Linked DNA regions of Homo sapiens. The protein of the gene in region 2 purifies or fractionates together with the protein of the main gene of each other region. This does not show direct contact. Each region holds a gene or a part of one and is shown on either strand. Other genes may lie near its edges. The genes, in order: TTC33 and ANKRD18A.

Region 1 (3,826 bases), on a different chromosome or scaffold from region 2:
GTTTATTTATTTGACAGGGTCTCACTCTGTAGCCCAGGGTGGAGGGCAGTGGCAAGATCATAGCTCACCGCATCCTCGAACTCCTGGGCTCAAGCGATCCTCCCACCTTGGCCTCCCAAAGTGCTGGGATTACTAGTATAAGCCACTGCACCCAGCCAGTTGTACTATTCTTTAATACAGATTTGAAATTTTTTCAAAATAAAAAAGGCCTTTTCCACCATAGATTAGAGATACCATTCTATATTTTCTTCTATTAATTGCATAGTTTTACCTTTCACAAATTTTTAATCCCTCCAGGGTCCATCTTTGTGCATGGTATTAGATACAGACACAGTTTTATTTTCCTCTAGGTAGTAATCCAGTTTTCTCAACAGAATCTACTAAAAAATTTGTCTTTTCCCCACTGACTAATGAAAAATGATTTTTGGTCCTTCTTAAAAATCTAAGCAGAAAAAGGAGAAAAGGAATAAAAAAGTAAGAAAAAGAGGAAAGGAAAAAAGAAAAAAGAAATGGGTGCATATAGGAACAACTTAGCTAAAGAAGGGCTAAAAATAAATGAAGCTATTATCAACTTCCTGTACAGCAAGTCATATTTACTTAAGTATATAAGAAGTAAATGGCAAAGAATAACTAAATACCTATTTTTTTTTATGTATGTGCCCTCAAAGCTATTCAGGAAATGCCTAATTTACCTGATACATAATGTTATAAGCAGAAAGTTTCCAGTGATAAGACCACCTTTTACTGACCAATCACTTGAATTACATTTTACTTAGCATTTACTCTTCTTTAGGCACAACAAAAATGATGGCAAAGCAGGGACATAATTAGCATCCTGAAAACTATTTTACAAACTTTCATTGCATCCTGAAAACTATTTTACAAACTTTCATTTTTCAGGTGACTTTGAAACACCTTATTTCTTTGATTAATTTAGCACCTAGAATAGATTTTTAAACATGAATTTATCAAATTCATAACTCTTCATCCCATTACGGACAGTGAGCTAGAAAATGTAAGCTCTTCTCCATAAAAAAAAAACTTTAAATACATACCTTTTATTTTCAGCCAAACTGGCTCCTTCATCCTTCAGCTGTTTACTTTTCTCAGCACAGCCTTCAAGAAGAATTTCTTTCCTACGTTTAATGGCATGAAGCCAGTTCCCTTCATCGTTGTCAACTACATCCTTCTCATCAGCAGCTTCAGCTTCAAACTGCTGGGAAGTGACCTTTGAGACCTTCTCACCAATTTTCCTCTTCCACCCAAAGGAAGCCATTCTGGAAAATTACAAAGAAACAGCTTTAAAATTCTAACTTGATCTTTTTTTTTTTTTGAGATGGAGTCTCACTCTCGTTGCCCAGGCTGGAGTACGATGGCACGACCTCGGCTCACCGTAACCTCCGCCTCCCGGGTTAAGTGATTCTCCTGCCTCAGCCTCCCGAATAGCTGGGATTACACTCATGCACCACCCACACCGGCTAATTTTTGTATTTTTACTAGAGACGGGGTTTCTCCATGTTGGTCAGGCTGGTCTCAAACTCCCGACCTCAGGTGATCTGCCCATCTCGGTCTCCCAAAGTGCTGGGATTACAAGCATGAGCCACCACGCCCGGCCCAAAACTTGGTCTTTTATGGAAGTATTCCAACCCATAGGTAAAGAGGAAATAACAGGATTAGACTATCACCATTTTTCAACCCTAATTAGTGGCTGTAGGCAATAATCATCAATGGCCACTAACATCACTAAGAAAGACAACTGGACATCACACACCTCCTGATGGAAGTAGCATGTCACTCATGAAGTAAGTACTCCTACAAAAATTAACCCTGAGTCAGATCAGGCCTCTACCTATAAGAAATACAGGATAAAGTGAAGCATGCTCAATAACACATCAGAGATGCAGATAGCAAAAAACAGAAACTAAAGGAAAATAAAGCTGGTTTCTTCAAGAAATAAACTGCCAGGAAAGAAAGAAGAGAAAGAACAAGGTAACCCCTAAATTAAGAGAGACTTAAGAGACATACTAACCAACATAACATGTGGATCTTGTTTCACTCCTGATTCAAAAAAGCCAATGAGAAGAAAACTTTTTTTTTTCTGAGACAAAGTTTTGCTCTTGTTGCCCAAGCTGTAGTGCAACGGCCCGATCTCGGATCACTGCAACCTCTGCCTCCCAGGTTCAAGCAATTCTCCTGCCTCAGCCTCCCGAGTAGCTGGGATTATAGGCAGGCACCACCACGCCTGGGTAATTTTTTGTATTTTTAGTAGAAACGGGATTTCACCATGTTAGCCAGGCTGGTCTCAAACTCCTGACCTTAGGAGATCCGCCCACCTCGGCCTCCCAAAGTTCTGAGATAACAGGCGTGAGCCATTGCACCCAGCCAGAAGGAAACATTTATGAAATAGGAGGAATGGGAACACCGATTTGATATTTGATGATATTAAGAAATCACTGTTTTGTTTTGTTTTTTTGAGATGGAGTTTTGCTCGTTTCCCCAGCTGGAGTGCAATGGCACGACCTCGGCTCATTGCAACCTCTGCCTCCCAGGTTCAAACAATTCTCCTGCCTCAGCCTCCCGAGCAGCTGGGATTACAGGCATGCGTCACAATGCCCTTCTAATTTTATATTTTTAGTAGAGATGGAGTTTCACTATGTTGGTGAGGGTGGTCTTGAACTCCTGACCTCAGGTGATCCACCCACCTCACCCTCCCAAATTGCTGGGATTACAGGCGTGAGCCACCGCACCTGGCAAATTATGGCTATTTTTTCTTTGGTGTGATAATGGTATTGTAATTATGCTTACAAAAGGAACCCCTAGGTTTTAGAAATATAAACTGAAATATTTCATATAAAATTATAAGACATCTAGGAATTGTTTTAAAGCAATCAGTGGAGGTTGGGAGTGCAATGCAAGAGAAAATATACATGAAATTAGATTGCTTTTAATTGATAACTAATGAAGTTGAATGATGAGTACATAGTGTTCATTGTACTTTTTCCTTTCATATGTGTTAAAATTTTCCATAATAAAAAGGTTTTAAAAGATTCAAACTTGGTAAACGACTTAACTCACAAAATTATTGGGTAAATTTTAAAATAACAGATGCTGGCCGGGCACGGTGGCTCACGTCTGTAATCCTAGCACTTTGGGAGGCCAAGGCCAGTGGATCATTTGAGGTCAGGAGTTTAAGACCAGCCTGGCCAAACCCCATCTCTACTAAAAATACAAAAATTAGCCAGGCGTGGTGGTACATGCCTGTAATCCCAGCTACTCAGGAGACTGAGGCAAGAGAATTGCTTGAACCCGGGAGGCGGAGGTTGCAGTGAGCCTGGGCAACAGAGCAAAACTCCATCTCAAAAAATAAATAAATAACAAATGCTGAACTTTTCAGTAAATCTGCAATGATATACAAATGTAAGAAATAAAGAGAGGATAAATGATAAAACAAAGTTAACAGAAATCCTGAAATAATTCAACAAATATTTATTTAGAGAAGAGATTAACTGAGGGATCCAAAAATTTACTAGTTGTATAGATGGTCTTCAAGATACTAAGAAACACTGGGAACTGTATATAAATTGTACAAAATTCTTTATATCTGTGTACATTTTGGAGAATAGTGTTTAAGCTTTCATTCCATTCTTAAAGGAGTCTATAACCACAAGGAGATTTTGATCAAATGATCAACTAGAGAAACAGAGAAAAAAAGCAATGAACCAAAAAACATAAAGAAAAGAAAAGCAACGAATCAGAGGGCTTTATGAAACTACCAAAGAATGGGCACTGTGGGAGTATGGGAGGGAGAGAAATGAAATACTGCATA
Region 2 (3,826 bases):
ACAAAAGTGGATGGTGGTTGCCTACAACTGGGGTAGGTGGAGAGACATGGAGTGGGGTTGCAGTCATGGCTAAGAGATGTAGGGTTGCTTTTCAGAGTGGTGAAAATGTTCTACCATTGATTATGCTGATGACCACACAGCACTGTGAATATACTAACAGACACTGAGTTGTACATTTTAAATGGTTGAACTGTCTGACATGTGAATTATCTCTCAGTGAAACTGTTTTTAAAATCCCATGGTAGGATCCAGATAATTTTCTGAGCTCTCCATTTTGGATGTACATACTCTATTAGATCTGAGTATTTCTACGCCATTACAGTATATTTTAAATGAAAGGAAGATGAAGGCAATGCCTAACTTTTCAAGTAGTTTGTAAATTAACCTAAAACATGTGCATTTCAAAGAACAGTATGATGGCCTTTCTGTACAAGTTAACCTAGAATCCATGAAATGAATACGCACAGCTGCTGTGTCCATTCACAAAAGTGAAGAAATAAGACAACTTGCTGGAATATTCCATTAAACATTCTCTTCTGACTTAATCTGGCTTGCCTCACCAAGGCATTAAGGAAATTATCTAAAAATACTGTTTAACGGGAAAAAAGTCAATTTTCTGTGAGGAATGATGTATTATTCTCAACTTTCCCAAGTGTAGATATTATAAGAGAAAACATATGCAACTATTATTTCAAAATGGCAGAACAAGAGCCAGAGTTGAAGAAGTACGTTATAAAGATAATAAAATGGTAATGATCAATTATAATAAAATATAAAATCAAGCTGTCCACTGAAATTAGTATCCTAAGACACTTTATATTATTCAACCAGCTACAGATTAACTGTCTACATGTTAAATTCCATACATACTTGAATTTCTACTTGAAATAATTTCTTCTTTGAAGTCCATGTCTCATTCAAATTAATATGACAATGTGATGTACCTTCCAGTGGAGACTCTGATATTGAAAATGTTTTAAGGTGATCGACCAGTTCTTCTTGAAATTCTCTCACAATCACCTGACAAAATATTTTTGTTACCAATTTTATAAAGTGGCTTATTATTAAATTATGTTAATATTTAAGTCTAGCATACATACTTTGAAAATTATTACCACACACACAGATTCACTTTCTTTTCCTCATATGTACACTTTCTTCTTTATTACTGAATTCAGTGAGGGACATAGAAGGTGTTATATTCCTGCCAAATTGGTATTCTCTTACATGACAGATTGATCCAGCCCGCTATTCACTCACCTTAGACCCTCAACTCAACCTGAGTTCCTCACATATTCAGTCGCCTGTTGAAATCCTTCCAACGGATTCCTACCTCAGAATAAAATTCCAACGGCCTTCAAGGCCCTAGGTAACATGGCCTCTACCTCCCTCCCTGACCTCAGCTCCTACAACTCTGTCCCGTACAAACTTCAATCCCACTCTCTGTGAACTCTGCCACCCCTCATTAGTCTGAAAATGGGGATTCAATGTCAAACTCATAAATCACAGACAGCTAAAAGTATCTTTGTACTGGAAAGAATTATATCCAAATGATAGTCATTGAGACTTAAAATGTAAATTATGAGCTAATTACTCATAAAAATATTCACAGTAAATTATAAATACCTGCCAGTGGAAACATTACATCAAATATTTTTTTGCTAAAATTTACCACATTTATTCCAAATTGTGATTTTATAACAAGTAGAAGTCTTTAAAATACTAAGTGGTCAGAAAAATACATAATGTGAGACTGACATATTTTCAGACTTAAGTCACATTGGCATGAATCAAAACAAAGTTACACCAACTAAAATACATATAAGAGAGAGCCACTGAAGGAAAAGCATCACAAGACACAGCAACACACTTCAGTTCATCTGGAAAATCTAGAATTAAGTGTCAAAGCAGCTCACTTAATTGAATCTGATTTTCAAAATACACATTTCAGGTACAAGCATTTCCACTTACCTGCTTCATTATGCTCTTAAAATGCGGCAACATGAAGACGTTACATTTCTTATTTCAGTAGTCTAAGACTACACACCTTATCAGCATTGCTCTGCATCTACTAACATTTCATAGGTGACATAATGTCTTTACTCAAAGGAAAGCATCTTGTCAGCTCTACCTTTTATCTCCTGGAAACAAAGCATGTTTCCAAGCTGATATAGTAAACACTTTTTTGGTTTACTAAAACAGCTTTGTTGAAATATGATTTTTATTCAAACAGCTTTGTTGAAATATGATTTATAGAATTTATCTTTTTTAACAAACAGTTCAAAGATTTTTAGTAAATTTACTGTGTCGTGCAACCATCTCTACAATCCAACTTTAGAACATTTTCATCACTCCAGGACAATCCCTAATGCCCATTAGCAGTCACGACCCGCTTCCAGCCCCAGGCCTACACAAACATTAATCATCTTTCTGTCCCTATAGATGTATTTCCTGGATGATTCATGTAAATGGAATTATACAGAATGGTAAACACATTTTCATCTATTTATTTGTATATTGAACTAGGTTCAACATATAGCCAGAATGAAATATTTAAATTTTCTTTCCAGAAGTTTATAGTTTTCTTCATACTTACTTCTCTTTCTGCTTTTTCTTTTTCACACTGAAGCAGTTTTTCTTTTAAATAATTATATTCTTTCATTAATTCCTTATTTCTTTCTTCTAGAAGATCTTCCTTTCCATTCTCAAGACAGTCTCTGTGGATATTAATGACTATCTCTTTATTATCGCCTTCCTTACGAGCATCCTCTAGTTGTCGTTCAAGCAAGAGATTTTCAAGTTCTTGTTGACGTATTCTCTCCTCTAAAGAGTTCTGCTTTCCAATGGATTGACTTTCTTTAGCTTCTCCATTTGGATGCATCTGCTTCATTTCCTTTATTCGATGCTGTGCTTGCCTTAGGTCCAGCTGTACACTTCCTAAAGCCAATGTCTTTTCCCTGAGAGCATCTCTTGTCTCACGGAGCTTACCTTTTAAGGTATTGAACTTCACCCGAGCTTTATGGACCTGTTCAGTAAGCAACTCATTCTTATCTGTTAGTTGAGAAATATTAGAACCCATTTTTTCATGTCTAGAAACATCATCTGCTCTCCATAAAACTAGTTCTAGGTCTTTTCTTTCCACAATTTCATTGTACTCATTTATAGCAGTGGCCAGGCTAGAATGGAGGGATTCAACTTCAGCTTCTAGTCTTTCTTTGTTGTGTTTTTCCTTCTCCAATTCTGAATTCAGCCTTGCATTCTCAGCTTTCAGATCATTAAGCTGTTGCGAATACCGGGCCACTGTTTTTGTTATCATTTTTTCATTGAGTCTTACACTCTTTTCAAAGTTAGCATTTATTTCTGTAATGCTTTTAATTTCCTGAATATATTTCTTTTCCTTTCTGAGACTGTCATTTTTTATTGCATATAATTCCTCTTTGAGCATGGCAATGTCTTTCTTCAACATAAAATTTCCATACATCGCATCCTTCTTTTTTCCGTAACTTTGAGAATCCTAAATAAAACAAAACAAATTTTTAGTTAGCACTCAATAAAATAATCTATGATGGTTATTTCTGAAGTGAAAGAGCAATCTATACATTCATGCAATTAAAAGTTGCTGTAAGTGGATATCCAACTGGAGAAAAAGTTGAAGCAAAACCTTGAACCTTAGAGAACATACATTTCAAAAAGTTCAAAAATGTATTTGAAGTCAATGAATCCATAAAATACACACACACACACTCTAGAGAATTTTTAAGAATATCAGAATTGGAAAAGCCTTTCTCTGAATTACAACAAACTCAAAGCATAAAGTTGTTAAAAA

What was found.
Region 1: the proteins of ANKRD18A (region 2) and TTC33 purify together in Homo sapiens (affinity purification with mass spectrometry; one large-scale study listed by BioGRID and IntAct). This does not show direct contact.

The regions. Positions count from the first base shown.
Region 1 is NC_000005.10:40,745,743-40,749,568, forward strand, and holds part of TTC33 (tetratricopeptide repeat protein 33), read right to left. Parts: intron 1,278-3,826; 5' UTR 1,277-1,277; coding exon 1,056-1,276; exon of another isoform or gene 1-1,055.
Region 2 is NC_000009.12:38,592,890-38,596,715, forward strand, and holds part of ANKRD18A (ankyrin repeat domain-containing protein 18A), read right to left. Parts: intron 3,515-3,826; coding exon 2,597-3,514; intron 1,021-2,596; coding exon 871-1,020; intron 1-870.